Linked DNA regions of Homo sapiens. The protein of the gene in region 4 purifies or fractionates together with the protein of the main gene of each other region. This does not show direct contact. Each region holds a gene or a part of one and is shown on either strand. Other genes may lie near its edges. The genes, in order: STK11IP, PLXNB2, COLEC12 and TLR1.

Evidence for each region.
Region 1: the proteins of TLR1 (region 4) and STK11IP purify together in Homo sapiens (affinity purification with mass spectrometry; one large-scale study listed by BioGRID and IntAct). This does not show direct contact.
Region 2: the proteins of TLR1 (region 4) and PLXNB2 purify together in Homo sapiens (affinity purification with mass spectrometry, with the first as the bait; one large-scale study listed by BioGRID). This does not show direct contact.
Region 3: the proteins of TLR1 (region 4) and COLEC12 purify together in Homo sapiens (affinity purification with mass spectrometry; one large-scale study listed by BioGRID and IntAct). This does not show direct contact.

What each region holds. Positions count from the first base shown.
Region 1 is NC_000002.12:219,599,165-219,607,084, reverse strand, and holds part of STK11IP (serine/threonine-protein kinase 11-interacting protein), read right to left. Parts: intron 5,851-7,920; coding exon 5,645-5,850; intron 5,445-5,644; coding exon 5,370-5,444; intron 5,098-5,369; coding exon 5,002-5,097; intron 4,618-5,001; coding exon 4,510-4,617; intron 4,381-4,509; coding exon 4,309-4,380; intron 1,478-4,308; coding exon 1,351-1,477; intron 1,130-1,350; coding exon 1,026-1,129; intron 891-1,025; coding exon 795-890; intron 610-794; coding exon 568-609; intron 374-567; coding exon 227-373; intron 107-226; exon of another isoform or gene 102-106; coding exon of another isoform or gene 33-101; coding exon 1-32. UniProt on the Homo sapiens protein: May regulate STK11/LKB1 function by controlling its subcellular localization.
Region 2 is NC_000022.11:50,302,860-50,311,425, reverse strand, and holds the start of PLXNB2 (plexin-B2 isoform 3 precursor), read left to right. Parts: upstream 1-3,779; 5' UTR 3,780-3,873; intron 3,874-7,604; exon of another isoform or gene 7,605-7,947; intron 7,948-8,566.
Region 3 is NC_000018.10:344,338-352,257, reverse strand, and holds part of COLEC12 (collectin-12), read left to right. Parts: intron 1-4,094; coding exon 4,095-4,193; intron 4,194-4,916; coding exon 4,917-5,963; intron 5,964-7,920. UniProt on the Homo sapiens protein: Scavenger receptor that displays several functions associated with host defense. Promotes binding and phagocytosis of Gram-positive, Gram-negative bacteria and yeast.
Region 4 is NC_000004.12:38,792,821-38,800,259, reverse strand, and holds the end of TLR1 (toll-like receptor 1 precursor), read left to right. Parts: intron 1-1,361; 5' UTR 1,362-1,428; coding exon 1,429-3,789; 3' UTR 3,790-4,005; downstream 4,006-7,439. UniProt on the Homo sapiens protein: Participates in the innate immune response to microbial agents. Specifically recognizes diacylated and triacylated lipopeptides. Cooperates with TLR2 to mediate the innate immune response to bacterial lipoproteins or lipopeptides.

The DNA.
Region 1 (7,920 bases), on a different chromosome or scaffold from region 4:
GAGATGCTTGCCCGCCTCACACGGACTCGGCTCTGAGGTTGGTGGAGGGAAGAAGTTCTGTGAAAGCCAAGCCTCCAGCCCTGCCATCCACGGCTGGCCATCCAACCTATCAAAGAAACCTTGACCACGTGCAAGCACAGTTCCTACCATTCCCTGCCCACTGTAGCCCAGAGTCCCCGGAGAGACACCCAACCGCAGGCACAAGGCAGCGGAGGACGCTGCTTACCTTAACCTTATGAAGCAGGGGCTGGGTCACAACACCCCCTGAGGAGAGGCTGTCACTCAGGTCAGGGCCACCTGAGGTTTCAGGAGTACTCCCCACTGGCCAGGGCAAAGGTGGGCCCATGGGGCTGAGCCCCAAGGATGTGTGAGTCTGGCACGTGACGACAGGAAGGAGAGAGAGGTTGGAGCCTGGGAGCACCTCTGCCTTGCCCAAGCCAGCCAAAAGGCGGGACCCTACTTTCCACTGACCAGGAAGACCCTGTCACCAGCCAGCCCTCTGTTCTCTCCCCAGCGCCCTCCCTTCGTGTCTTCCCCCAACAGTCCTCGCCCCCCAACCACACCGACCTGAAAATCTGTCAGTGACAAGACCTTGCCATCGAGAAGGAACTGAGCAAAGACAAAAAGGGGGAGGGAGTATGTGGTAGGCCCATCCTGCTGAGCTCCAGGTATTAAGAACACAGTAAGCAGGGTCCAGGTCCTTGGCCCCTCACCCAGGGATGGCAAGAGGGTGCAAGGTGGGGGAGGACTGGGCAGGAAAGGGGAAGAAGAGTGGACACAGGACGATCACTCACGCCAGTAGCAGCATCCCTGGCCCGGGGTGACAAGTACTGGGCAGTGGCTGCTCGGTGCTCAGGGTGGAACCAAAGAGGGTTCCCCTCCAGGTAGAGCTGAGGGGCAGGAAGGGGAGAATGAGGAGGGCCTGGGGCCCTGGCCCTCCCTGTGTGAAGAAGGCACTGACCAAACCAGCATGGGGGGGTACGTGCAAGGGTGGTTCCCAGGCCCCTGATGCATTCCCATCTCACCTTGCGGAGCTCAGCCAGCAGCCACAGTGGTGACAGCTCCCGGTGTCCTTCCAGCAGGTTGTATGCCAAATCCAGGTGCCGCAGATTCCTCAGCTGCTCTAGGCCTGGGGTGGACGCAAGAAGGAAGGAAGAGCATGTGGATGAGTACACGCAAGTGAGTGTGGTGCATGCACTGGGGGAGGTTGCAGCAGAAAGACCGGCCAGAGCACCCCTGCACTCCCCATAAGCCCTCTCAAGGCTCTAGAGGCACATGGTCCCCAGGCCAGCCCCAGCCTCACTCTCCCCCTTCCCCTCCATGCTTGCCCCATCACACACCCCCACTCACCATGCAGGCTCCGAAGCTCATTGCCTCGCAGTATCAGGACCCCCAGAGCAGCCCCTGAGGGTCCCATTCTTGGCACCAAATGCAGGCGATTATAGGAGATGTCCAGATGGTGGAGCTCACACAAATCCTGGCAGGGGTACAGGGGAGAAAAAGATTATCTCGTTGACCAAACTCTAGCCAGGGTCCTCTGAGACCTCTTCTGGACTAGGCCTCAACCTTGGCCTATATAAAACTGCACACACTCAGCACAAATGATTTCATCCACCCCTACTCCCACGTTAAAAGACTTGAACAACACCAGCACTGTTCCTAACAGTTCAAGGCCACACCCTGAGCATGGCAACTCCAAGCCCCTTAAATTCCTGCCTGGGAAAAGTCAAAGCTGCCAAAAGAATTTCCCATTTGTTTCAGCCAACTCCTGAAGATAGGGCCCCGTCTCCCAGTCTCTGTGAAAGGGTAAGGGCCTTATTTTGGTAAGTGCCAGTTAGTTAGCAAACTCAGATGGGTTTCATGTGGACCAACCTGATTTCCACTCCCCCAGCTCTGCTCAAGGCCCTACCATTCCCCTGCCCACTCCCCGCCGCCCTCTTTTAAAATGCCCAGCCGGCCAGGTGCAGTGGCTCATGCCTGTAATCCCAGCACTCTGGGAGGCCAAAGAGGGGGGATCACTTGAGGCCAGGAGTTCGAGACTCACCTGGCCAACATTGTGAAACCCCGTCTCTACTAAAAATACAAAAATTAGCTGGGCGTGGTGGCACACACTTGTAATCCCAGCTACTTGGGAGGCTGAGGCAGGAGAATCGCTTGAACCCGGGAGGCAGAGGTTACGGTGAGCCAAGATCGTGCCATTGCACTCCAGCCTGGGCAACAAGAGCGAAACTCTGTCTCATTAAAAAAAAAAAAAGGAAAAAAGTCCACTGACACTTCTGTATCTTCCAGGCTCTGTTCAGGGAAATAACCGTGACTGCAACACTGTCTATGCTATCACCACAAACATTCAAACTACAAACGAAGAAATCCATCGGTTGCCACTGCTATCCTCATTCCACCATCTAAAGAAACATAGAGCTCAACACCTAGAAATCTCAACTGGCTGCCCTCTGGACTCAGAAAATGGATTTATAGTCTGCTCCAACCATTCATCTTTGTTTCCCTTTTTGTTTCCATAGAAATGTCCCCCATTAAATGCCTGGTCACTCTCACCATCCAGCAAAATTCATCCACTACCAAGTCCCAATAAATGGCTCAGTTGGTTTTTAGTGAACAAAAGGTGATCAAGGAAGAAAAGGATTTATATTGTTCAGGGGAAAGAGGAGTGTCTCTTCTTTCCCTGAATTAGAGGAGGTTCTCACCTTGATCAAACCCTACTCAGGCTCCTCTGGGCCTTCTTTTTGACTAGGCCTCAACTTTGGCCTGTTAAGAACTGCAGACTTGTTCAGCACAAGTTCAACAAAATTCAACACAAATTATTTTTGTTGACTCCTCCAACCCCCACAGTAAAAAACCTGAACAAAAACAGCAAAGTTCTAATATCTCAAGGATGCATCCCTAGAATGGTGACTCTAGCCCCCTTAAGCTCCTGCCTGGGAAAAGTCAAGGCTGCCAAAAGAATTTCCCATTTGTTCTAGCCAACACCTGATGACAGGGCTCCCATCTCCCAGTCTCTGTGGGAAGGTAGGAGCCTAACTTTTAGCAAACCCAGAAGGGCTTCATGTGAATCAACCTCCACTTCTGCTTTTCGTACATTTCCACTTCCCTTACTCTGCTCAAGCCCTCACAGTTCCCCTTCCTATTCCCTCACTCTCCTTTTAAAATGCCCAGCCACCTCTGCACAAATTGAAGTGGCGTTCAGTTCAGGTTGCACCCTCTTCCCCGCTGCAATAGTTTATCACTGATAAAAAATCTGTCCTTACTTGGTCGGGCACGGTGGCTCACACCTGTAATCCCAGCATTTTGGGAGGCTGAGGTGGGCGGATCATGAGGTCAGGAGTTCAAGACCAGCCTGGCTAAGATGGTGAAACCCCATCTCTACTAAAAAATACAAAAATTAGCTGGGCATGGTGGCGGGCACCTGTAATCCCAGCTACTCGGGAGACTGAGGCAGGAGAACTGCTTGAACCCAGGAGGTTGAGTTTGCAGTGAGCCAAGATCACACCACTGCACTCTAGCCTGGGTGACAGAGCAAGACTCTGCCTCAAAAAAAAAAAGAAAAAAAAAATCTGTCCTTACCACTTTAACTAGTTCGGCTTTATCTCTGACAGGTGGATGGGAGGACCCAGAAGAAAGGTTCTTCATCATAATCACAAAAGCTACCAGTTTCTGAGCTAGGCACTAGACTAAGCAACATTGGGTACTTCTTCACAATCATTTTAATACTATAAAAGCAGGTATTCAGCCGGGCGTGGTGGCTCATGCCTGTAATCCCAGCATTTTGGGAGGCCAAGGCAGGTGAATTGCTTGAGGTCAGCAGTTCAAGACCAGCCTGACCAACATGGTGAAACCCCATCTCTACTAAAAATACAAAAATTAGCCAGGTGTGTTGACACGTGCCTGTAATCCCAGCTACTTGGGAGGCTGAAGCAGGAGAATTGCTTGAACCTGGGAGGCAGAGGTTGCAGTGAGCTGAGATTGCGCCACTGCACTCCAGCCTGGGTGACAGAGCGAGACTCCATCTCAAAAAAAAAAAAAAAAAAAAAAACCAGGTACTCTTGTGATTTCTACTTTACAGGTAAAGAAACCAAGAGGTAACTAACTTGCTCAAAGTTGCACAGGTATTAGAAGTTGAGATATGAACTCTGGTTTGTCTGATGCTAGTGTCTAAGCAGTGCTATCTCCCAGAATGCAGCTCCACCCTCATGGCAAGAGCAAGGTGGGAGTAAAAGCTGGTCAAGGAGAGAGAGTGAGAGCAGAGCAATCAAAGACCCATGGTGTGCCAGCTGCCAAACTGCCCATACTCACCATCAGGAATCCCTGACAGTCCTGGACTTGATTGTGGCTTAGGTTCAAGAAACGCAGAGCTGACAAGAGGCGCTGAGAGAGACGGGGAGGAGGCAGAGAATCGATGTTCACTACAATACTATCTGGTCAACCAGCTGGCCCTCCTCCCCAAAGGCCTGGCCTTGCCCTTCCTCGAAACCCTCTTCCCTCTGAGGCACTCACCAGGGAGCTGTCTAAGGCGGTCAGTGCATTGTAGCTGAAGTTGGCAGAAAGCAGAGCCAGCCAAGGGAGGGCAGAGCAGAAGTCGCCGCCGCAGGCTGAGAGGAGCTCCTGAGCAGACAGATGGGTGCTTCATTACCCCACCCTCCCCTTCCTCCCTATGCCAAGGCCAAGCTCTACCACCCAGTCACTCATTCATTTTTTATACACTGAACTCCATCTGAAGATACAGGCTTAAAGCCCAGGTCCCTGACCCAAGAACTCACTGTAGGGACAGTGGGAAGGTAGACACTAGAATATGTAATATAATATGGTAGGTACGACTATAAATATACAGGCAGTTACAGAGTGCTGCGGGAACACAGAGAGGGAGTGAGGACACTGTCTAGAGGGAAGCAGGAGGCAGGGAGAGCTGCAGAGAGGGGAGAACATCAGAGCTTGGTCTTCTACATCTCTCAAGTTGAGGTGTCTGAGCTCACCCCTCACTCTCCTTACCTCTAATGCCTGGAGGCTCCTGCTGCAAATCAGGGTCTCCAGCTGGGAGTAGATGCCTCGGAGGCCATGCAGACAGTGGAGGGGAACACCTCGGAGCTGGGACAAGGAAAGAGGAGGGAGGAAGGCAGAACCCCACAGAAGACAAAGACCTCATCCCCATCCCCTAGTTGGGAGGAGGGAGAAGACCACAAAGCCCAGCTATGATTTAGGGAAGCAGTAAATGGAAAGACAGTGGATATCACATGACTGCAGAGCAATGGGTATACTCAGGCCTGGCCTCCTCACCAAAGAGGCTCTTCTCTTTCCCATCCCCAAGGGGCTGCCTCAAGTTGGGTGCTGTGCACCAACATCCCCCCGTGTCCCCATACCTCCAGGTGCCGAAGGGATTTGAAGGGGAAAATCTTGATGGGCCCTGTGGGGCCAGGACCAGCAACATGGACCAGCTGAAAAAAAAAAAAAAACTCAATTTACTGAGGCACAGCAGATCTTCCTGCCCTCAACATTCCTTCCTTAGCACAACCACTGGTACCTCTGACACCCTCTGGATCCTGGCACTGCAGACTTCTGCACCCCTACCCTATCCCCAACTTCCATCATTCTCTTGGGCTCCTTGCACATCCTGCCTCTTCCCCACACCCAGAACCTTGAGTGAAAGTGTTTTCTGCAGCACATCGAAGAGAAACTGAAGCTGAAGAATAACAGGGGAGTCGGCAGGATGGGAGGGCAGAGCCACAAAGCCTGTCTGGCCAGGGCCCCATGGCCCCAGGTGCAGCTCAAATACGTGGTTCAGCTGTTGCAGTGTGGGAGTCAGCAGGCTCAGGGTGCTACAGCCAGACAGGACCACATCCCCTGCAGAAAAAGGGGCAAACAGGAGGGAAGACACAGTGAAAAGATTTTTCTCTTTATTCTAAGGCTCTATGATGCCAAAATATACCCACTCCAATCCATATTGTAGATCTTCTATTGCAGGATCAAATTTTCTATCTCCTTCTCAGCTCAAAAGCATTCAATGGCTCCCCTCATCTTCAAAAAAAGTCCTAACATTTCATTCAGCCTGATGAGACTGCTTGGCTACACAACTCCAACCAACTCTTCCAAATTTTCTTTCACCTTCTGCTCAAAAGAGCCTCATCTACTGACAGTGCTGGAAATACAGCCAGCTTGGTTCACAGTTCTCTCTTGTTATGAGACACCCCCTTCCACCGCCCAGCTTGAGACCAGCCTCCTCCAGGAAGCCGCCTCAAGAAGTAATACTGCTGAATTTTCATATTGCAGTCACTCATTATTACACAAAAGTTAATTGGAAGTTTTATCTTTCTTTCTTTTTCTGATTGCAAAGCACATCTGTAGAAACTTTCAAACAATACTAAAAAGTATGTCATAGAATAACTATTCATTATAGCACTAAGGCATTGTTATTGCTGTCTGTTAAAACTGCTCTCTCTAATGAGACTTTCATCCTTGAGGGCATCTTTTGATCACTCTGGTATTCATCACTGCACCTAAAAAAGTGCAGCTACAAGCTAGGCATGAAGGAATGCTTTTTTGGCTTAAAAAATATAATAAGTATGGAGTCAAAGAATGCTGCAGAAATAATACAGAAAGGTCCCCTGTATCCTTTACCCAGTTTTCCCTAATGGTTACATTTTATATAGCTATAGTACAATATCAAAGTCAGGACACTGAGCTGGTTGCCGTGGCTCAGGCCTGTAATCCCAGCACTTTGGGAGCAAGGCACTTGAGGTCAGGAGTTCAGGACCAACCTGGCCAACATGGTGAAACCCCGTCTCCACTAAAAACACAAAAAATTATTCTACGACTCTAACCTCGTCTCTACTAAAAATACAAATATTCTCAGCTGGGCATTGCGACATGCGCCTGTAATCCCAGCTACTCGAGGGGCTGAGGCCAGAGAACAGCTGGAAGCCAGGAGGCAGAGGTTGCAGTGAGCCGAAATTGAGCCATTGCACTCCAGCCTGGGTGACAGAGGTAGACTCCATCTCAAAAAAAAAAAAAAAAAAAAACAAAAACAAAAAAAAAAACACAAAGGGCAGGCGTGGTGGCTCACGCCTGTAATCCCAGCACTTTGGGAGGCCAAGGCGGGTGGATCACGAGGTCCGGAGTTAAAGACCAGCCTGGCCAATATGGTGAAACCCCGTCTCTACTAAAAATACAAAAATTAGTAGGGCATGGTGGTGCATGCCTGTAGTCCCAGCTACTCGGGAGGCTGAGGCAGAAGAATCACTTCAACCTGGGAGGGAGGCAGGGGTTGCAGTGAGCCGAGATCATACCACTGCACTCCAGCCTGGGTGACAGAGCGAGACTCCATCTCAAAAAAAAAAAAAAATTCAGGACACTGATGTTGGTACAATATGTATATATAGCTATATGCTGTTTATATAAATTCCTGCAGCCACGCAATCAAGATACAAAACTATTCTGCTGCCACAAAGCTCTTCTCCTGCTACCTCCTTGTAGTCACACATTCACACACCCACCATTCATCACTGAATAAATTAACAAGTCCTACAACCTGACATGAAGGATTCTGTATGTACTAGACACTGAGGATAGATACAGACATGGTTCAAGGACTCTTCCCACGTTCAAAGGGCCTCCTAGTTGTCTCCTCCCAGAGAAGGATATAAGACATTTGCAAAGTTATCAATACAAGCCAGGAAATGAAACTGCTACTGGCCAGGTGCTGTGGCTCACGACTTTAATCCTAGCACTTTGGGAGGCCAAGGCAGGTTAATCACTTGAGGTCAGGAGTTCAAGACCAACCTGGCCAACATGGTGAAACCCCGTCTCTACTAAAAATACAAAAATTAGCCGGTCATGGTGGTGCACACCTGTAGTCCCAGCTACTCAGGAGGCTGAGGCAGGAGAATCACTTCGTCCCAGGAGGTGGAGGTTGCA
Region 2 (8,566 bases), on a different chromosome or scaffold from region 4:
TCTGGGAGGTGGACAGGGCTCCTGTTGTCCAAGTGTGTCCGTCCATCCCCCACATGCAGCCCAAGGGGCTCTGGACTTCGGCCTGACCCTGCCTCTGGCTGGAGCCTGCATGTCTCCCTTTCCTTGGTAAGGGGTGAACGTCCCTAAGAGCCACCTCTGGGTTGTATGCTCCCCCCGTGACACCTGCAGGCACTGAGGCCGGTGAGGTACGGTGTTGACCCTGCACAGCACACAGTGACGGTACTGTCAGGGCTCCGGACAGCCAAGCCCTGCTCAGCATCACGCACTGTGTGCCCGGGAGCAGGTCCCCTGACCACTCAGACCCTCAGACTCCTCATCTGAGCGAGCCAGCCATGCAGATGCCCGACAGGGTGCTGGGAGGGCCACTCATGGAGACTGGGCTTTGTACCCTGTGAGGCCGGGCGGGTGCTGGCCAGGGGACACAGGGCTGGGGGAGGGACTTTTTCTTTTTTTTTCTTTTTGAAATGGAGTCTCGCTCTGTTGCCCAGGCTGGAGTGCAGTGGCATGATCTCGGCTCACTGCAAGCTCTGCCTCCCGGGTTCACGCCATTCTCCTGCCTCAGCCTCCCGAGTAGCTGGGACTACAGGCACCCACCACTGCGCTTGGTTAATTTTTTGTATTTGTAGTAGAGACAGGGTTTCACCATGTTAGCCAGGATGGTCTCGATCTCCTGACCTCGTAATCCGCCCGCCTCGGCCTCCCAACGTGCTAGGATTACAGGCATGAGCCACCGCGCCCGGCCGGGACTTTTCTTTTTCTTCTGAGGCCCCCATTCAGTCCGAGGAATGTAGCCTTCATTCAGCGCAACGTACTGTTTGTGTTCTCATTGGTGCTCTCAGACCTCCAGCCAGGTGGTGGAGAGCGAGCACTGCCAGCCACTTCAGTGCAGGATGTGACTGAGCCACAAGGACAGCGGGGTCAGGTGTCCGGGCGCCAGGTAGTTCTCAGAACTTGGTACATGTCAACTTGTCCAGCCCAACTGCAGCCCAGGACAGCCTGTCCCTGTTCCCATTCTACAGACAAGACGCGGAGGCAGCCGGGAGGGTGACCAAGGGGAGCTGTTAAGCCCCAGATGTCTGGTGCAGGGTCCAAGGATGTGACCACATGAAACAGAACACATAGAGGCCGAGGTGGCAAACCTGTTCTGTGGCAGGGACAAGCCGGGGACCCGAGGGTGAGAAAGGTCCTGGCCCCAAATGCAGCTTGGGCCTCCTGACTGTAGCACAGGGGGACCAGCCTCCCCACTGAGGGCTTGGTCTCTAGAGGGTCTGCAGAGATGCTGGCACCTCTTGTGTGGGCAGCTTGAATGCTGACCTCCATAAGATGGGGCCTGGGGGGCCAGTACAGGCCCTGCCATCAGCTGCCCTCCACCAGGGCCCTCTGCAAAAGCCTTATGCTGGTGACCAGCCCCCTGAGGACCACCACTTCAAGGTGTCGGGGCAGCTTGGGAAGACAACCCACCTCTCTCACAACTGTGACCCCACTTTGGGGAGCGCACCCCAAGGACCGTGGCAGCATGTGCTTCCCCACAGCACAGTCTCGCCTCACTTGGCTTTCTGAGGGCTGCCGCACAGCACAGAGGGCTGCAGACCCACATGGCTGCAGGGGAGGGGCTTCAGGCTGGTCTCTGAGGAGCCCCCAGGGACCCTGGCCACTGTGTATCCAGAAATGCACAAGCAGATTTCCCTGGAGGGCTCTGGTGAGGCCACATAGTGGCGTGTGAAGGGGGAACTTGAGGGGGGAACCGGGCTGGGTGGCCAGCATTGCCCTGGGCAGAAGCTAAGGCTAAGGTGGGGGGTAGTGTCCCAGCCCCTCTTCCTCAGGGCCTGTCCCCACCTGTGCAGAAGAGGCCTGGGGTGGAATGTGGCCTGGGGTGGATGGGTGGGGGCTGGGCGTGGAGACCTGCCAGCTCCATCTGTCCGGATGCCTCTTGTGGCCCCCCCAGTGTCAGGGCCGCTCTGAGTTGGCTGAGCCTCTGTCCAGGGCTAGGCCATGGCCCTCCCCGCCCCACGCACTCCAGGCCAGGGGCAGTCAGTGAAGAGGCAGGAAGGTCCAGACAGCTCTACCCCTGGCCAGAGTGCCAGCCCCCGCAGGCAAGAGGGCTTGCTGGGCAGAACTTAGTTGGCGAGGGTGAGGACTGCTGTGGTCACAGGCCTCCCGAAGGACAGGGACCACAGAACCTAGAGGGTGGGAAGGGCTGGGAGCAGGTCTGGAGTGGGGCTCGGGGCTGAGGGTGCACACAGGGGGCCTGCTCAGGGACAGGAAGGACAGCTGCTCACCCTCAAGCTTCCTGCTGGCTATTTAAAGACTCCCTTTTAGTCTAGAACAGTGGCCTTCCCACAGTTTTGGTATTAAAATGTCCTTTTGTGACTGGACCTTGTCTTTTCCTTTTTTGATAAAAAGTTGGCAACCTTGTCAGAACCTGGTAATTTTGGGGTCCTCTGCAGTGAAGGGTAGGGTTGCCGTGATGTGGATTGTGGTTCAAGGCCCAAGGGAAGATTTTGGACAGGAACAAGGCCTGGCTGCTTGAGGGTGGGAGAAGGCAGAGACTGAAAGAACTAAGTCAGGCTGGGGGAGTTTGTCAGGATGTGGCGGGGCGGATCCCGGGTGGGGGAAGCAGAGGAGGAGGGGATGCCTGGCTGGGGACAGGAGGAAGCTGACCAGCTGCAAGGACGGGGCAGGTCTGGGTGGAAGGCGGGCCCCAGGGAGGGGTGACCCAGGGTGGGGGCAAGAGCTTGGGGAATGCTTCTGTCTCCTGCTCAGCACATCCAGTTCCGGGAGGGCAGTGGAGGCGTGCTCCAAGGTCTGGCCCTGCAGACGGTTCACCACCTCTTCTCAAGCCCAGGGGACACTAGGAGCACTGAGGCCAGGACTTGGGACCTGGGATGCCAGAAGTGGGGCCAGCTCTGTCCCAGAAACCAGAACCCCCAGAAAGAGGTCTCGGCCCGCCCACCTCCTGGCCCTGAAGGACCAGGTGGGGTCCCGGGTGCAGCATCCCAAGGTGCTGCTGGAGGCCAGGGATGTGCTGGGAGGCCATCTCCAGGTCCCAGTTTACCCTGGGAGGTTGAGGGCCTGAGACCCCTGGGAAAGGGCCAAAGCCCAGCAGCCCCCACCCCTGAAGGCCGCAGGGGAGCGACTGGTATGCTTCCAGTCTGGGAGTGAGAGTCTGGTGCCCACACATCTCAAGACTGGCAGGGACCCTCACGTTCCTCTGGCCAGGCGAGAGTGCACTCATAATGCCCTCCCCTGGTACCAAGCCATGGCCTCCCCTCAGACCTGCGGGGTTCCTGTGGGGGTGCTCAGGCCATGGGGCCTCTGTGGGCGCTCGTGCTTCCTGGACGGCGGCATGGTGGGCAGGGTGCTGCCCTGGCTGAACCTGGGTCTGAACTGGGGTGCCTGAACCTACCAGACAATGCTGTGGCCGCTGGGCAGGGGAGAAGTGGGGGGCGCGGGGAGCGCAGGCCCAGCCCCTCCCCTCCCGTCCCCTCCCCTCCTCTCCGGTTCTCTTCTGCCCTCTCCTCCCCGCTCCTGCTCCCCCTCCCCTCCCCCTCCCCCTCTTCCCCCTCCCCCTCTCCCCCTCCCCCTCTTCCCCCTCCCCCTCTCCCCCCTCCCCCTCTCCCCCCTCCCCCTCCCCCTCCTTCTCCCCCTCCGCTTTCCCTCTCCCTCTCCCCCCTTCTCCTGTTCTCCCCGCCCTCCCCTCCTCTCCCTCGTCGGGGGCGGGGCCGGCAGCTCCCGCGCGCTCCGGCCCCTCCTCGGCCACACAAAGGCCCCGTCTCCATGGCAGCAGCGCGGGCCAGAGCGCAGCGCCGAGCGCGGCCCGGGCGCCATCGAGCCTTGGCGGCGGACGTGCAGGTACCGAGCTCGGGGGACTGGGCTGCGGGGGACGTCTCGCTGGGCGTGGGGGGGGCTTCGCCGTCAGCGCCGCTCCGCCCGGGCCTGCCGCGCTGGGGCCCGGGGACCTGCGGCGGCTGCGGCTCCGCGGAGGGCTCCCGGGGCCTGGGCCCCGTCCGTCGGTCCATCCGGCGAGGCCCGGGCCGCTGCCGCCCCACTCCCTTCCCGGTGTTGACTCGGGGGACGGGCCCGGCGGCGGGGGCTGCGCGTCCCTCCGGAGCCGCGTCGGATCCCTCCTCCGCGCCTGCCTCTCACTCTTCAGCCGCCGAGCTCCGTGCGCCGAGCGGAGATGGTCTCGCGGTGCGGGCGCTCCGGGCCGGCCCCAGGCTCAGCGGCACAGGAGCCTGGATTTGCCCGAGCTCCCGGGGGCCGTCCCCGCACCCCCTGGGGCCTGCTTGGCGCGGGGGGACCAGGGCGGAGAGCACCCGCACCTGGCGAGACCCCACTGCCTGGGCCTCCTCGCGGTTCCCAGAGTGGCGTCTGGGTGGACACCCCGAGACACAGAAAGTCTCAGAAGCGGGGGCGCGAGCCCTGCCTGTCCCCTGCTGACCCTGCCCCTCCGCACCCTGCTCCTGCAGGAAGCCCCTGCCCTGCCAGCGCCCCTGGTCGGGCTATTCGGCAGATCTGGGGAGCCCGCCTCCCCCTGTCATCTGGGGGTCTCAGAGCCCGGACGCCCTGGGGCTTCCTGCCAGGCCCTTGATTTCTCTTCCCGAAGCTCCCTGGGAAAGGAAGAAAGGGGTCCGTCTGCCCACTGTGGGCTGTGGCAGAGTCAGGACAGGGGGTGAGGGTGAGGGTGAGGGTGAGGGTGAGGGTGAGGGTGAGGGTGAGGGTGGGCCCCAAACCCGGCAGATCCCGGCGGCCTGGAGGGCTCCCTGTGCCCCACCTTCCCTGGACCCCCCCGCCCTCCCCACTTAATGTCTGACTTCGGCCCTTGCTTGGAGGTTCGGCGCAGCCTGTGAGGCTTTAAAGTTGAGCTTCCTCAGGAGCCCTTTGCGGGTGGGAGAGCGAGGCTGCCGGGAAGTGGGGGCTCTCAGCCTGCCCCATGCCCAGATGACCCTGGCACGGAACAGCTGAACAGCTGGTGGGAGGAGCCCTCCCTTTCCTGTCCAGAGGTGAGGGTCTCCCGGAGGGCAGGGCCAGCAGGCATAGGTTTGTGGCGAGTCAGCTTTTTGCATGTTGCATAGAAATCCCCAGAGCCGACTGAGAAGCAAGCAGGTGGGCCTGGCACATCTGAGTCCTCCCACGGTACCTATGGGGGGCCCACCTCTGTCCCGGGGGGTCTGGGAGGCCTGAGGTCTGGCCAGGGGTTCCTTGCCCCAGTAGAGGAGGGAAGTTACTGAGAAAAACAAGGGTTTGGAATGTGAGTCCCCCTCCCCCACCGGCTGCCTGCCAAGAAAGAATTATTTTGGATCATCCAGCCGTGTCCAGTCACCCGAAGCGGGAGGCTGCAGCGTGGGAGAAGGATCCACTTCCGGGACGTGGGTTGAGGGCCCCAGGAGGAGGACGGGCAAGTCCGGGCAGCTCTGCCACTTTCTACTGCAGCTGCCCAGACTGGGCGGGGAGAAGATGCGTCACCTTTGGGTTGGAGAAAGCCCCAAGGTTGGCCCCAGCAGGCCCTGCTGAGCCTGCAGTGGGCCCAAGCCCCTCTGGGGGAGACCATGGAACAGGAGGAGCTCTGGGCCCACCCAGGGACCCCCTCGCCCCACCCAGGGACCCCCTCGCCCCGAGAAGTCTCAATGGTGGTCTGAAGAGCCTCTGAGGTACCCTCCAGGCCCAAGTTCAGGGACACACCCTGTGCCAGTGACCTGTGCGTGCCAGGGAGGAGCAGGCAGGAGCGAGGCTAGGCTGCTAGGGAGGGCACTGGGGTTTCCCTCAGGGGGCCCTCCTGCCCCAACGGACTCCCTATTCAGCTCCTGACTAACGGACCAGCCTCCCTCCAAGCCCCTCCGACAGCCAGTCCTTGCCTACGACCCCCTCTGGATATGGCGCCTGTGAGCCCATCCTGCAGGTGGGGAGACTGAGGCCAGAGATAGGTCTATGTGAGGAGTCATCTGCGATGCTGTGTGGCCAGGGCTGTGGCTACCTGGCGCTCTGGGTCCATGCTGTGTGTGCGCCCGGGGTGTGTGCCCGGCGGCCTGCATGGGGACCACATCGGGGAGGAGGAGCCGGCAGCTGGCCCCAAGTGCAGAAAGCCCAGAGCCTTGGACCCGGCCCAGGGAAGTGGAGCAGAAGAGATTGGATTGGAAGGTGGTGGGGAGGGCCCATATGGCACAGTCCTCCTCCCATCCCAGGACGTCGTCCGTGCTCACCGTGTCCTGCCCCCTGCCTCACCCTGTGCCAGCCACAGCTGATGGTCCCCCTGGGACGCGGGCGTGGGCAGGGGTGCACTGGCTGGGAGAGGCTGTGTCTTCCGGCCCCTCATATTGTGCCTTCTCTGAGCTAGGCAGGCACTTGGATGCCAGGCCTCTGCCACGAGGGCTGCCTTCCCCTGAGCTGGGAGTTCTCACTCAGCTCATGCCTCCGTCCCTCTGGCTGCAGCCTGGCCGCCCTCCTTGGAAGTTGGCGGGGAACCTCTTGTGCCCAGAGCCTGCCTTGGACACGGTTTGGGGATGAGGTGGTGAGCTGCTCAGAATTCACCCAGTGGCCAGCAAGTGGCCCCCCAGCCTTGACCTCCCTTCTCTGAGGCAGATCCAGGTTCTCTGGGGGTGGGAGATTCAGTAGGGCTGGGACTGGCCACAGCCCCTCCCTCCCTCAGGGGTAGTGGCTGTTTGTGTTTGGGGTGGGGCTGTGGGTGGGGTGGGGCTGGGTCTCTGACTAATTACACGATGGGGAGGGTGGGTCAGAGCCTTGGCTGGTGGGGGGTGCTCAGGCTCTGGGGCCCCGGGGAGGCAGCTGCCCTAGCTTCCCTCTTTCTGGTCGAGGTTCCTCCACCTTCTTCCTTTCCGTGGTTTCACATCCCTTGACACAGGGCCTGCTTCTTCCCATACCCCTGGATTGTAAGGACCCCTGCCTTTCTCTGCCTACCAGGGAAGGACCCTGCACTGTTCTGGGCTCCCCCAGCCACAGGTGTGGCCTCAAGCCAGGCCCTGACACAGTGGCCCTCCTGGCTCAGAAGCCTTCTCTCTGAAGACCAAGCGTGTGAAGGGATTGGCTGGGCCCCTCCCGTCTGGCCCTGAACACTGGCACCCCGCACCCCCCCAGTGGATCCACCCTGCCCTGTGAGATTCATGAACCTGTGACAGTGACTGGCCCCAGGCCCAGTGGTGCCGGGGATGGTGGGACAGGCTGCCCCTGGTGGTACTGCAGGTTTGCCCCACCCCCGGGGATGTCTGTCTGGGGAGGAGCCTGGGGCTGGCCTGGCTGTGGAGCTGGGGGTTCTGTTTCGCACAGTCCCGCCTCTGCAGCCCAGATCCTGGAGCCCTTCACACCCAGAGGCCAGCCCACACCGTGGCCCGCTATGGTTGGTGGCCTTCCCTGGGGGTAGCCCCTAAGGCCACACCTGAGCTGCCTCATGTCCCAGGCTAGGTGAGGGAGGAGACTGCCCTGGGCTGGGATCAGGGCGCCTGGGGGCAGGTCCAGCTCTCTTCCTCAGCCCCCTAAGGTCTCCTGGCTTCTGAAAGCCAATAGTTCCTCATTCCAGTGCCAGCTGAGTCCCGGCCCAGGCCTGGGGCAGGAGAGGGAGGTGCTGCCCCAGTTCAGCCACCAGCTCTGCCAGCAGGGTCCCAGCAGCAGCAGCATCAGAGGCAGGGACTGGGCTCCTGGGGGTAGGGCCCCGGCCCCTCTGGCACAGCTGGTCAGCAGCTTCCATGGGGGGCCCTGTGTGGAGACACAGTGTCCAGCACCGATTTCTGGGCCTGATGCTGCCCCAGCTGAGTCCCGCAGCAAGCGCAAGAGAGAGAAGTGCTTGGTGTCCACCTCTGAGAAGGCCTCCTGTGTGAACACGGCCCCCTGAGGGGCCAGGCAAGGGCGTCTGCTCCTGTGGCTGGGACGGTTCCTGCCCACGAGCCTTGTGTAGGGCTGCGGCTCTCTTCCCAGGTGACCTTCTGTTGTGGTCTGGGGCCCCCGAGCCAGCATGCCACCTGCTCAGAGACAGATTGGGCCCCCTGTCAGATTGGCGTCTGGGGGCACTGTCTGCTCCTTCCAGGCAGCTTTGAGGACTTCTCAGAGGAGGAACCCCCCTGCCCTGCTGGTCCAAAGTGGGGTGCTGAAGGCCGAGGCAGTTTCCAGGGGGCTATGCCTCAGGCTGCGTGGGTGGCTGTGGTAGGAGCGTGCTCTGTGATTGTCACTGCATTTGCCTGGGGTCCATGCTCTGTCCTCAGCTGGGGTCTGGCTTTGAACCTAGGTGAGTTCTGGGGCTCTGAGGACAGGCCAGAAGCAGGAGTGTGGGGGGGTCTCTCCTGGGGGAAGCAAGGGAGGCCTGGGCCTGTGTGACTCAGACGTGGTAGGGTGGCATGGGAGCCACAGCTTGGGGGGATGGCGGGGGGCTTGAGGGTAATCCAAGTATTTCAGGGACCCAGCCATGGAGAGTGGGGTTTGAGGACCAGCAGGAGGTGAGGACTCTGTGGATCCCAGCCCTGTCAGGTGTGTTTTCAGAGCTGGGGCCTGCTTTGGAGGAGATGGAGGGCACAGAACACTGCTGAGCCCAGGCCCTGTG
Region 3 (7,920 bases), on a different chromosome or scaffold from region 4:
TAAACATTCTGTATTTTAGTTCTTAAAAATTAGCTTTGCTAAAAACACATATGCAACATTTTATTCTTGAGAGTTTCCAGGGATTTAGGAGTATGTGTACCTATGAAGCAACCCTAAGGTACAGATTATTAGAACTGCATCTCTCTGTCTATGTAGTAATTTTAAAAATAATAATTACTCAGCGAAATGTCATACTCACTGCCAATGCTCAGGCTTCCCTGGGTTGGTTGGGAAACACGTGTTTGCTTGCCCTGTAGCTCAGCCGGCAGATTGCTACTTATTTAAATAAATCCCTCATTCCTGTAATCCTAGCACTTTGGGAGGCCAAGGTGGGCAGATCATCTGAGGTCAGGAGTTCGAGACCAGCCTGGCCAACATAGAGAAACCCCATCTCTACTAAAAATACAAAAATTGACGAGTTAATGGGTGCAGCACACGAACATGGCACATGTATACGTATGTAACAAACCTGCACGTTGTGCACATGTACCCTAAAACTTAAAGTATAATAAAAATACAAAAATTAGCCGGGCGTGGTAACAGGCTCCTGTAATCCCAGCTACTCGGGAGGCTGAAGCAGGAGAATCACTTGAACCTGGGAGGCGGAGGTTGCAGTCAGCTAAGATCATTCCATTGTACTCCAACCTGGGCAACAAGAGTGAAACTCCGTCTAATAAAAAATTAAATAAATAAATGACATAATAAATATATATTCATTGACTACCTACAAAGTGCCACACACTGAGCTAAGAGGAAGAGATGGAATTGAATGTAAATTTTCCTGCCCTAAAGGATATAATAGTAGATAAGTCATGACAGCACAGTGCAGTGAGTCCCATAATAGAGAAAGGACTACTTGCCAGGGGAATTCTGCAAGGTGCACCTCGGCAAAGGGTTCCCACAGGAAGTGACAAGCAGAGTCTTGAAGAGCAAATAGGACTTAGCTCAGTAAAAAAAAAAAACAGGGAAGAACATTCTAGGTAGAGAGAACACATGGAAAGGCTCGTGTGAGAGAGTGTTTGTCGCAGTGCACACATTTCATTATGACCAGACGGTAGAAGCTTGAGGGAAAACAGTGAGCTTCTCCAGGGACAATTCCAGGATCCAAGGAGCCAGTTCACTTTGGGTCACACAAACACATGGGAACTTACTACTTCTTCCTGAGAGGAGCCAGGAGAATCTCACACAGTCATGCGTGGGTAGAACATGTGATGAATACAATAAATTAGATCCGTTGGCTCATAATTGATATATAAAGCATGTTCTCATTTTTTGAAGTCTTTTTTTTTTTTTTTTTTGAGACAGAGTCTCGCTCTGTTGCCCAGGCTGGAGTGCAATGGCGTGATCTCGGCTCACTGCAACCTCCACTTCCCAGGTTCAAGCAATTCTCCTGGTTCCACCTCCCAGGTTCAAGCAATTCTCCTGCCTCAGCCTCCTAAGTAGCTGAGGTTACAGGCGTGTACCACCACAACCGGCTAATTTTTGTATTTTTAGTAGAGATGGGGTTTCACCATGTTGGCCAGGCTGGTCTTGAACTCCTGAGCTCAAATGATCCACCCACCCCAGCCTCCCAAAGTGTTGGAATTACGGGCGTGAGCCACCATGCCCGGTCTGAAGTCTTTTTTTTTAAGCTATTGATACTAAGAAGGACAGTCAGACTTGATCCCAAGCTGCTAGAAGCTGTATCTCACATAAATCACTTTTGGAGAAACATCCTCTTATTTAACATTTTAGAAACGTGTACTTGAATTCATAACTGTAGAGAATTACTGCCTTCTGAAAATGAATAAGAACTGAAGCTTTTATTTAGTGTGGCTGTATTAGTCCGTTCCCATGCTGCTGATAAAGACATACCCGAGACTGGGAAGAACAAGAGGTTTAACTGGAATTACAGTTCCACATGGCTGGGGAGGCCTCAGAATCATGGTGGGAGGCAAAAGGCACTTCTTACACGGCAGCAGCAAGAGAAAGTGAGAAAGATGAAAAAGTGGAAACCCATCAGATCTCGTGAGACTTATTCACTACCATGAGAACAGTATGGGGGAAACCGCCCCCATGATTCAAATTATCTCCCACTGGGTCCTTCCCACAACACATGTAAATTCTGGGAGATATAATTCAAGATGAGATTTGGGCGAGAATACAGCCAAACTGTATCATTCCACCCCTGGCCCCTGCCAAATCTCATGTCCTCACGTTTCAAAACAAATCATGCCTTCCCAACAGTCCCACAAAGTTTTAACTCATTTCAGCATTAACCCTAAAGTCTGCAGTCCAAAGTCCCATCTGAGACAAGGCAAGTCCCTTCCGCCTATGAGCCTGTAAAATCAAAAGCAAGCTAGTTACTTCCTAGATACAATGAGGGTTACAGGTATTGGGTAAATATAGCCTTTCCAAATGGGAGAAATTGGCCAAAACAGAGGGGTTACAGGCCCCATGCAAGTTCAAAGTCAGCAGGGCAGTCAAATTTTAAAGCTCCACAATTATCTCCTTTGACTCCAGGTCGCACATCCCGGTCATGCTGACGCAAGAGGTGGGTTCCCATGGTCTTGGGCAGCTCCACCCCTGTGGCTTTGCAGGGTACAGCCTCTCTCCCTGCTGCTTTCATGGCTGGTGTTGAGCATCTGTGGCTTTTCCAGGTGAACGGTGCAAACTGTCAGTGGATCTACCCTTCTGGGGTCTGGAGGACGGTGGCCCTCTTCTCACAGCTCCACTAGGCAGTGCCCCAGTAGGGACTCTGTGTGGGGGCTCCGACACCACATTTCCCTTCCACACTGCCCTAGCAGAGGTTCTTCATGCACATCCCACCCGTGCAGCAAACCTCTCCCTGGGTATCCAAGAGTTCCCATACATCCTCTGAAATCCAGGCGGAGGTTCCCAAACCTCAATTATTGATTTCTGTGCACTCACAGGCTCAACAACACATGAAAGCTGCCAAGGCTTGAGACTTGCACCCTCTGAAGCCACGGCCCCAGCTCCACATTGGCCCCTTTCAGCCATGGCTGGAGTGGCTGGGAAGCAGGGCACCAAGTCCCTAGGCTGCACACAGCATGGGGACCCTGGGCCTGGCCCACGAAACCATTTTCTCCTGGGCCTCCAGGCCAGTGATGGAAAGGGCTGCCAGGAAGGCTCTGACATGCCCTGAAGACATTTTCCCCATTGTCTTGGGGGTTAACATTTGGGACGGCAAGAGAAAATTAGAAAGATGCAAAAGTGGAAACCCCTGATAAGACCATCAGATCTTGTGAGACTTATTCACTACCACCAGAACAGTATAGGGGAAACCACCCCCATTATTCAAATTATCTCCCACCAAGTCCCTCCCACAACACATGGGAATTAGGGGAGTATAATTCAAGGTGAGATTTGGGTGGGGACACAGCCAAACCCTATCAGTGGCATTACTTTCCCTATCATATGCAATCAAGAAAATACTACCAAAAAATACTTCTTGGCAAATCATTGTTTGGAAACACCACTCAGGCATCTACTTGAGAACTGACAAACTACAGAATCAGTTGTCACTAACAAAAAGCAGATTTTCAGGGCCTTGTGGTGGAACTCATAACAGAAAGTGGCAGACACTCTTGACTTTGCAACCTTTCTATGCCGATTTTGTGTATAGAATTGAGCTGGGTTTTCCTTGCCAATGGAATCCTCTTCTAGGTAAATGAGTCCCACCTGCCAAGAATGTTAGGGAAGCTGATGAGTGACAACATTTTGTAAATTATCACAGTGTGCCTTGCCTTCATCTATGGAAATTAATATAGGAAATAGCAGATTAGGGACTTCTAAAATGCATGAAAATTTTTAAATTAGTTCCAAATGATTTCTGAAACATCCAAGGCATTACAGAATCATAAGAATAGTTAAGAACATACAATTCTCAACTAAGTAAATTGTACCCCTGGGTTTTGTGACAAGTAAGTTATTTTTCCAAAAAGATGGCTTTTCTTTCCTATATTTGATTTCAGTTACACTGTTTTCGTTCAATCTGTTTCCTTTGTTCCATAATGAAATGATCTCTTGTTTTGAAACTGAAAAATAAAATATGAGCAGATATGTATACTAATGCATCATTTTCCAAATCTTAGTTGTAGAGAAAATGGACAATGTCACAGGTGGCATGGAAACATCTCGCCAAACCTATGATGACAAGCTCACAGCAGTGGAAAGTGACCTGAAAAAATTAGGTAATCTGTGACAAGACTAAACCATGAAATCCCCTGACTCTACATAAATGACCACAGCTTCTTAGAATGATGTTGCTATAAACTCCCCATTCACCCGGAAGGACATTCAATTTTTGTGTTGCATGTTGAGTCTCCCCTCATGATTTAATTCAAATGCTTAAATTTTAAAGTTAAGGGTCAGTTTTGGAATTAAGTCCTGCCAAGAAAACTATTATGTGCCAAATAATATCTGAAGATCAATCCTGACTGAAAAAAAACACAAATACCCTTTATTAAAAACTGTCACATAAATAGGAATTTACTGAGCATTTTTGAAATACTTTAAACTACATAGAATTGTAGAAATTAAGTTATAAAGTGAAAGATCCTAGCATATTCTATTCCTTGATTTTTGCTTTCATTAAAAAAAAATTTGGGAAATTTAAAAGGTTAGTTTCTTCTTGACAGCCTGCCCACTGCCCTAAAATCTAGTAAATTCCCCCTCCCTCTTTGAGAAAAATGTTCAGCCAAGTTTGTCATTCCTAGTTCTGAGCTTCTTTTCCGATTCCCCAGGACCCAGTTTTAATAGATATGTACATTTTACTAATGCAGAGCTGTCCGCTTATACTGCCAATTTTGCATCTAAAATACAGTGCATACCGATTAAGTGTGTTCGGGATCTTTGGCCTTGCCTGAACACTTCTCCATACCACCAATATAAGTCACAGATATTTCTTATTCCAGGTGACCAAACTGGGAAGAAAGCTATCAGCACCAACTCAGAACTCTCCACCTTCAGATCAGACATTCTAGATCTCCGTCAGCAACTTCGTGAGATTACAGAAAAAACCAGCAAGAACAAGGATACGCTGGAGAAGTTACAGGCGAGCGGGGATGCTCTGGTGGACAGGCAGAGTCAATTGAAAGAAACTTTGGAGAATAACTCTTTCCTCATCACCACTGTAAACAAAACCCTCCAGGCGTATAATGGCTATGTCACGAATCTGCAGCAAGATACCAGCGTGCTCCAGGGCAATCTGCAGAACCAAATGTATTCTCATAATGTGGTCATCATGAACCTCAACAACCTGAACCTGACCCAGGTGCAGCAGAGGAACCTCATCACGAATCTGCAGCGGTCTGTGGATGACACAAGCCAGGCTATCCAGCGAATCAAGAACGACTTTCAAAATCTGCAGCAGGTTTTTCTTCAAGCCAAGAAGGACACGGATTGGCTGAAGGAGAAAGTGCAGAGCTTGCAGACGCTGGCTGCCAACAACTCTGCGTTGGCCAAAGCCAACAACGACACCCTGGAGGATATGAACAGCCAGCTCAACTCATTCACAGGTCAGATGGAGAACATCACCACTATCTCTCAAGCCAACGAGCAGAACCTGAAAGACCTGCAGGACTTACACAAAGATGCAGAGAATAGAACAGCCATCAAGTTCAACCAACTGGAGGAACGCTTCCAGCTCTTTGAGACGGATATTGTGAACATCATTAGCAATATCAGTTACACAGCCCACCACCTGCGGACGCTGACCAGCAATCTAAATGAAGTCAGGACCACTTGCACAGATACCCTTACCAAACACACAGATGATCTGACCTCCTTGAATAATACCCTGGCCAACATCCGTTTGGATTCTGTTTCTCTCAGGATGCAACAAGATTTGATGAGGTCGAGGTTAGACACTGAAGTAGCCAACTTATCAGTGATTATGGAAGAAATGAAGCTAGTAGACTCCAAGCATGGTCAGCTCATCAAGAATTTTACAATACTACAAGGTAAGTCAAAATTCTGAATTTGTATTTGTATTAGTTGTTTATTGCTGCATAACAAGTTACTCTAAAACTTGGCAATTTAAAACAATAAATATTCATCATCTCATAGTTTTTGTGGACCAGGAATTCAAGAGCAGCTTAGCTAGATGGTCCTGACTCACTGTTTTTCATGAGGTTGTGTCAAGATCTCAGCCAGAGCTGCAGTCATCTGAAGGCTTGACTGTGGCTGGAGGGTCTGCTACTTAAGTGGCCTGTTCACATAGCTCTTGGCAGGAGGCCTCAGTTCCTTGCTGTGTGAAATTGCTTGAGTGTCCTCACAATGTGGCAGCTGGCTGCTGCCAGAACAAGGAATTCAAGAGAGAGAACAAGAAGGAAGATACCATGACATACTAGCCTCAGAAGCCACACACCATCACATCCACTTCATTCTGTTTCTTAGAAATAAGTCACTAAGTCCAGCCCACACTCAATGCAAGTGGAATTAAGTTCCACATCTTGAAAAGAAGTGTAACTAAGAATCTGTGGACAGTACTTAAAGGGACTCCATTAATTATTTGTTGAGTGAAAGGTTGGTTAATTTGAATTTTCTTGGTCCTTGAGCTATTTCAATGCAATATAAATCAAGCTCCTCTGAAAGCAAGATCAAGTCTTTTGGGTCACAAAGCTACCATTAAGGGAGTTACATGTCATGAGTAGATGAATGGTTGGCCATCACAGTAACACAGAGGTCACAGTAAGGTCACAGAGGAAGGAAACGATGTGTCTTGCTTATAAAATCTGAGTTTTGGTAGGTGTGCTGGCTCATGCCTGTAATCTTAACACTTTCGGAGGCTGAGGTGGGAGGATCGCTTGAGACCAGGAGTTTGAGACCAGCCTGGGCAACATAGCAATATCCCATCTCCTAAATAAACAAATAAATGAATGAATACATACGTATAATCTGAATTTTACTGTTATCCAGATCATCCATATAAATTAAAAGTCCTTGACTCAGACTAAGTCCACAGTTGAAGAATTGTAGCATCATATATTAACAGTATTTTCCAGTCACAAACTATTTTCACAGGTTTTAAGTTGAAAGTACTGGTGGAAGATGCTGTGCTCAGCAGTCTGGGGTATACAAATGAAACCAACGGTCCTCACCCTTAGGGAGTTTAACATAAAGAGAATTTCAGGGCATCAGAAGATGGGCTGTAAGCAAACATTCAAGGGGAAGGGATTACACAAGGGCCTGAGTCACTAGGGGCCACCTTGGGGTATGTCCCCCACACTGGTCTAATAATCAAGGGTAAAGAGTGGTAGTTAATAAGCCCCTGTGAGGCTGAAGGCAGATCCGGATAGCAGATGGCAGGACTCTGTTCAATAGCTTTGTCAGTGACTAGCATGGATGACCTGCTAAAGCAATGCTTGTGTGACTTGAAACTGTATATGCCAGCCAGTGGCTGATAGACTCATAATCCACAATGATCTAGAGAGGCCAGGATAGTATCAAGATGTCAATCAAATGAAGTAGATAGGAATACATGTAAAATCCTGCTCATAAATGGATGAGACAAAACAGATAAATGTTGATGGGAAGGCATGGCTGGAAGGAAGTGTGCATGAAGCATGGGGATTTTAGTTGACTGGAAGCAGTGAAATATGTCTTCCAGGGAAGGGAATGTGTTCCTTGACTGTGGACTGTGTTAAGAAAAAGGGAAGTAACATCTGACTCTGTTCAGTATGCCAAGACCACCTCTGGAAGATAATGTTTACTTTGAGTAGCCCCTTTCAAAAGAGACATTCCCAGACCAGCATGCTCAGAAAAGCAACATCAGAATGATAGGGGCTAGAAACCACGTACTGTGAGGAAGGGTTGAGGACCTGGGAGCTTTCACCCCTAGGAGAGCCTGTTCAGTGGAGAACAAGACAGCCATCTGCACTTATTTAAAGTTGCTCTGTCTGAGGAATGCCACTGGGT
Region 4 (7,439 bases):
CTAACTCCTTACTAACATTGACCTTCCCGTTCCTTCTCAGACAAGCCAAGCTCAATTCCATCTCAGGTCCTTTATACTTGCCTTTTCTTTTGCCAGAAATGCTGTAGGTTACCCAGATCTTCCCATAGGTTACTCATTCACTTCATTTTGATTTCTACTCTAGTGTCATCATCTCAAAAAGGCCTTCTCTAACTAATCACTCAAAAATAGCCACCCCCAAGCACTGTCTCATACCTACAATTTACCCTGCTTTATTTTTCTCTACAGAACTTATCACTACAGGAACTTGAGTTTAGTCATTCATTTATTTTCTGTCTCCCCACTAGATAAAAACTCCTTGAGAATTCGGACTTTATCTTGTTCACTGCTCTATCTCCAGTTCTTAAAACATGGCCAGTAGGTGATCAATAAATACTGGTTGAATAAATAAATGGATGAATAAATGGATCTTCTGAGAGGCCTTTTATCAGGATCTAATTACCTTTTGAGTAAGACCAAAGTTAGACCCAAACCGTGTATAGGTCATAAAGGGTAATAGAAGAGCAGTCCCAATACCACCATTAGGAACACCTCTTGAGAAAGTCATGGGGAGATGTACGTCAAAGAGTGAAAGTACACCAGTTGAGTCTTAGCTGGAGTTCTAAATAATTTTGGGAAGCTTGGGGCCAGAAAACTTTCTATGAACCCACCTGTATTAGTTTCCTGAGGCTGCTGTAACAGATGATCATAAACGTGGTGGCTTTGCCCTCAACGTTCTGGAGAGCAGAAGTCGAAACTCAAGGTGTCAGCAGGGCCACCATCACTCCAGAGCCTCCTCTAGCTTCTGGCGCCTGTTGATGTTCCTTGCCTTGTAGCTGCTGCACTCCAGTCTCTGCCTCCACTGTCACAAGGCCTTCTCCTCTGTGTCTCAATTGCCTCTTCTCTTGTCTCTTTGTCAAATATCCCTCTGCCTTTCTCTTAAAAAAGCACTTGTCATTGGATTTATGGACCACCTGGATAATTTGGGATGATCTCCTCATCTCAAGATCCTTAACTTTATTATCTCTGCAAAGACCCCTTTTCTAAGGAAGGTAACATTCATGGTTTCTGGGGATTAGGACATGGTTAAGATGTAGACATATCTTTTGGTGAGCCACCATTCAACCTATTACACCATCCATATTAAAACTTATTTGATTAGAGCTGGCATCATTATTTACCAATATATATACTTCTCTAGTTTTAGGCCATGTAACCCAAAAGAATGTAGCCTCCACTTTATAAGTCTGTAACAAAAAAAAGTTTAATGTCAGCCATGACTAATTTCGTGTATTTTAAAAATGTATGTAATGTATTTCATCATTTCATTATTTTTTTTCTAGAATCTGTATCTGTATCAAGATGATCTGAAGAACAGCTTCTACCTTTAGGAATGTCTAGTGTTCCAAAATGACTAGCATCTTCCATTTTGCCATTATCTTCATGTTAATACTTCAGATCAGAATACAATTATCTGAAGAAAGTGAATTTTTAGTTGATAGGTCAAAAAACGGTCTCATCCACGTTCCTAAAGACCTATCCCAGAAAACAACAATCTTAAATATATCGCAAAATTATATATCTGAGCTTTGGACTTCTGACATCTTATCACTGTCAAAACTGAGGATTTTGATAATTTCTCATAATAGAATCCAGTATCTTGATATCAGTGTTTTCAAATTCAACCAGGAATTGGAATACTTGGATTTGTCCCACAACAAGTTGGTGAAGATTTCTTGCCACCCTACTGTGAACCTCAAGCACTTGGACCTGTCATTTAATGCATTTGATGCCCTGCCTATATGCAAAGAGTTTGGCAATATGTCTCAACTAAAATTTCTGGGGTTGAGCACCACACACTTAGAAAAATCTAGTGTGCTGCCAATTGCTCATTTGAATATCAGCAAGGTCTTGCTGGTCTTAGGAGAGACTTATGGGGAAAAAGAAGACCCTGAGGGCCTTCAAGACTTTAACACTGAGAGTCTGCACATTGTGTTCCCCACAAACAAAGAATTCCATTTTATTTTGGATGTGTCAGTCAAGACTGTAGCAAATCTGGAACTATCTAATATCAAATGTGTGCTAGAAGATAACAAATGTTCTTACTTCCTAAGTATTCTGGCGAAACTTCAAACAAATCCAAAGTTATCAAATCTTACCTTAAACAACATTGAAACAACTTGGAATTCTTTCATTAGGATCCTCCAGCTGGTTTGGCATACAACTGTATGGTATTTCTCAATTTCAAACGTGAAGCTACAGGGTCAGCTGGACTTCAGAGATTTTGATTATTCTGGCACTTCCTTGAAGGCCTTGTCTATACACCAAGTTGTCAGCGATGTGTTCGGTTTTCCGCAAAGTTATATCTATGAAATCTTTTCGAATATGAACATCAAAAATTTCACAGTGTCTGGTACACGCATGGTCCACATGCTTTGCCCATCCAAAATTAGCCCGTTCCTGCATTTGGATTTTTCCAATAATCTCTTAACAGACACGGTTTTTGAAAATTGTGGGCACCTTACTGAGTTGGAGACACTTATTTTACAAATGAATCAATTAAAAGAACTTTCAAAAATAGCTGAAATGACTACACAGATGAAGTCTCTGCAACAATTGGATATTAGCCAGAATTCTGTAAGCTATGATGAAAAGAAAGGAGACTGTTCTTGGACTAAAAGTTTATTAAGTTTAAATATGTCTTCAAATATACTTACTGACACTATTTTCAGATGTTTACCTCCCAGGATCAAGGTACTTGATCTTCACAGCAATAAAATAAAGAGCATTCCTAAACAAGTCGTAAAACTGGAAGCTTTGCAAGAACTCAATGTTGCTTTCAATTCTTTAACTGACCTTCCTGGATGTGGCAGCTTTAGCAGCCTTTCTGTATTGATCATTGATCACAATTCAGTTTCCCACCCATCGGCTGATTTCTTCCAGAGCTGCCAGAAGATGAGGTCAATAAAAGCAGGGGACAATCCATTCCAATGTACCTGTGAGCTAGGAGAATTTGTCAAAAATATAGACCAAGTATCAAGTGAAGTGTTAGAGGGCTGGCCTGATTCTTATAAGTGTGACTACCCGGAAAGTTATAGAGGAACCCTACTAAAGGACTTTCACATGTCTGAATTATCCTGCAACATAACTCTGCTGATCGTCACCATCGTTGCCACCATGCTGGTGTTGGCTGTGACTGTGACCTCCCTCTGCAGCTACTTGGATCTGCCCTGGTATCTCAGGATGGTGTGCCAGTGGACCCAGACCCGGCGCAGGGCCAGGAACATACCCTTAGAAGAACTCCAAAGAAATCTCCAGTTTCATGCATTTATTTCATATAGTGGGCACGATTCTTTCTGGGTGAAGAATGAATTATTGCCAAACCTAGAGAAAGAAGGTATGCAGATTTGCCTTCATGAGAGAAACTTTGTTCCTGGCAAGAGCATTGTGGAAAATATCATCACCTGCATTGAGAAGAGTTACAAGTCCATCTTTGTTTTGTCTCCCAACTTTGTCCAGAGTGAATGGTGCCATTATGAACTCTACTTTGCCCATCACAATCTCTTTCATGAAGGATCTAATAGCTTAATCCTGATCTTGCTGGAACCCATTCCGCAGTACTCCATTCCTAGCAGTTATCACAAGCTCAAAAGTCTCATGGCCAGGAGGACTTATTTGGAATGGCCCAAGGAAAAGAGCAAACGTGGCCTTTTTTGGGCTAACTTAAGGGCAGCCATTAATATTAAGCTGACAGAGCAAGCAAAGAAATAGATTACACATCAAGTGAAAAATATTCCTCCTGTTGATATTGCTGCTTTTGGAAGTTCCAACAATGACTTTATTTTGCATCAGCATAGATGTAAACACAATTGTGAGTGTATGATGTAGGTAAAAATATATACCTTCGGGTCGCAGTTCACCATTTATATGTGGTATTAAAAATTAATGAAATGATATAACTTTGATTTAAACAGTTCTGACACATAAGGGATCCACTTGTTTCTTTGCTATAACTGAGTTCTGAATTTATCATGAAGTCAAGGGAAGCACCTGTTTTTCTTCAGTGATGTGTGTTCTAGTGTATCATGGCCAATATTGGAAAATGCCGTGACTTTTGTGAATATAGCTGGGTTTGTATAGCAGATTTCTACAGCTTTTGATGCTTTCCTCATATCCATGGTGCATTCAACTCAACTTATTGATGGCTGCTCGTTGATAAAGCTGGAGACACTATGCCTGAAGGTTCCTCCCCAACCCCCCACCATCATGCCCACACAAAGGGCAGTTCAGAAGTGCTGGAAATTGTCCTTGGAAACAGCCCTCAACCAATGTCAGAAAGAGCTGGTGGATAAATATCCCAACTTTCTCACTCATTTTTTGAGATAAATCAAAAAATGGGGTATACTTTACACTCTCCCTGAGTTCCCCAGTAGGATAAAATTCTGGTTGTCCACAGTAGAAATGGCTTGATTAAGTATTCTCGACTGGCTTCCTTCCCATTTTTTTCTCACTTACTTATTCCTCCATGTGTATTCCATGGGATCACCTCTGTGATAAACTACTTGCCACTGAATATTTGTCTCAGGGGCTGCTTATGAGGGAGCCCAGACCAAGAAAGTGTTCCACCTCAGTCCAAATGAAAATTCTGAGTCTAGTTTTCCATGACTGGAGATCTCGCTGAGATTCTGGTTGTATGAACTAACATGCACAAGAGCCTTTGCTCTTTTGATTAGAAGGAAGAATATAGTTGATATACGGTGCTTCTATATATAGCATCTGTCTCTTTGGGGAACTATTAAAGTAGAGCATGAGCAGATGGGGCAGTGTAAGGAATGGATATATCTGATGCTTTTCATACCCATCAAACATCCTGTCAGTCTACATTTTTACTCCAGCAGCCAGCTCTGGGCAGGTGTAGTCTTGACAAAAACCTTGTCATAACTACACCATGTATCTTTCACTTTATGCCCCATGACTTCACTGATACCACTGCGTGGGATGCTTGTAGAAGCCTGTTCTACCATTCTGATACATGCACAAACCTGGAAGCACAAGGGATAACACTACGGGATGGGAAGCATTATATACATGCTCCTTTCTTCTATTCTTGGGTTAAAAAATGAGGTGTAATTGATACCTTTTCTCAGACAATCCCTAGTGGCACTGAGGTTTACTTACCCACAGGGTAACCAGCTCAGTAACTTGGTTTTGCATTGACTTTCCATTCTTCCTTGGTCACTCTTCTCATTCGGGTCACTCTTGAGTCCTGAGATCGCTGCTCCAAACAAGCGACCTTTCCTTAACTCAAGGAGTCTAGAAAAAATAAATAAAATAAAAAGCAACAAAAACCAAAAAGCCTACAAATGACCAGCCCACAAAGCTCTCATCTCAGTCTCTACTTTTTTGAGTGGGAAGGAACCCAACTAACACATACATATCTATTAGCTTCTTGGCCTAAAGAACTTACAGTCAATCAGAGAACACTAAACATATCCAAATAACTAAAATAAAAATCAATGAAACAAAGCTATAAAATGGAAGTTCAGAGGTTGCTTAAATTGAGTGAAAAAAAATCTTAGAAATGATGTGTCTTTTTTTTTTTTTTTCCATTAGGTCTTGAAGGAAGACTTTAACTTTGGATTTTTCAATGTGTAATGATGAAGAATGGAAAGGCCATTCTAAACAGAAAGATAAAGAGAGCAAAGGCAGGTATACCCAGGCCTATTCTTGGACTGGTATCCCAGTTTGACTGGACCGTGAGGTTCATGAAAAACAACAGTAGGATAGGAGTGTGGAAAGTTATATTAAGACTATATTGTCAAGGATCTTGAAAGTCAAACCACGGAGTTAGAGCTTGAAAATAGAGGAAAGTCATTATTTAAACTTCTTTGAAGCATAATAGTGGGAGGCAAATTCAAACCATGAAATGTATGCTAAAAATAGGAGAACTATTGTTCTGTAATGGAATTGCAAAAATTGTAAGAACTGGATTTTCCCATTTTCTCTAGGATGATTGCACTTTCTGTATTGAACTTCAAGATTTCATAACCAAGTTTCAACTACTCAGCAAGCAGTTATGTATTCGTTTTCAAGGTCTATTTTAACAAAGTCTATTTTAACAAGCTGGGTGGCCTAAACAACTGAAATTTATTCCCATAGTTCTGGAGGCTGAAAGTCCAAAATCAAGGTGTTGGCAGGGTTGGCTGCTTTTGAGAGGAGAGAGGGAAGGATCCATTTCTACTGTGGACAACCCAGTCTCTTTTCTTAACTCATAGATGGCTGTCTTTTCTCTGTCTCTTCACATCGTCTTCCCTCTATGCCTGTCTGTCTCTGTGTCCAAAATTCTTTTTTTTTTTTAATAAGGACACCAATTACATTGGATTAGGGCCCACTCTAATGACCTCATTTTAACTAAGTACATCTCCCAACAACCTTATTTCCAAGGAAGGGGTAATTCTGAGGTTCTGGGGTTCAGGACTTCAACATATGAATTTTCGGAGACACAATTCAACTTGTTACACCCTGTAAATCCGAAAAAGAATTCCCTGAAAGGAACCTAAAGTCACTTAGAGTTTATTTAATAAACTCAAAATTTTTAGACGTTAGATCAGTCCTATACATAAATAGCTGATCTCATAAGTGGTTTTAAGGATGCTGGCGGGAGGTTGAAATTGTATTGGTGGAGTCTCCTGCCAAAGAATTCAAAGTTGGAAGATGAAGAATTCAGGCCAAAGTATGATAAATATCAATGAAAATAAGAGAGATTTCACAGATAAATGAGAGGAAGTATTACAGAATGGGTAAATATGCAAGCCCTTAATCAAGTCTGGGTTTCAATTCTAGCTCCGTCATGTATTTGCAGATGATCTTGGACAAGTTACTTAAACTTTCTAAGCATAGATTTCATTATTTGTAAAATATAGTCTTAGAGTAGCTAGCCAAGACCTTTAGATTTCCAAGTATAAATTAAAAGACTGGTCAAATATGTCTCCCAAACTACAGTTTTCACATAGCGAGCTTTCCAAGTGGTACTGTTGAAGCCCTTTCCCTAGGACCTAGGTCAGAGGGAGCACACCCCACCCATCCTTCTTGAGGGTAAATGAAACTCATAATATACCAAAACCTCTCTCCAAAATGCTCTTCTAATGTATAACTCCTCTCAGTCTCTCCAATCCCCTTTATTGGCTAGAGATGGGTAGTTAGCAAAGGTCACAAAACCAGTTATCTAGTCTCACACCTCACTCGGGGGACCTCCACCAAAATTGAGACTAACCTAGTTCCATTTTATCAGCCTGCTATACTAGCGAGACTGCAGTGGGATGGGCATTTCATATGGCAATAATAGGAGGGCAAAGTAATTTGGAGATATATATATATATATATATATAATTTGAAAATACTCATGCTCTTTGATCTGTCAG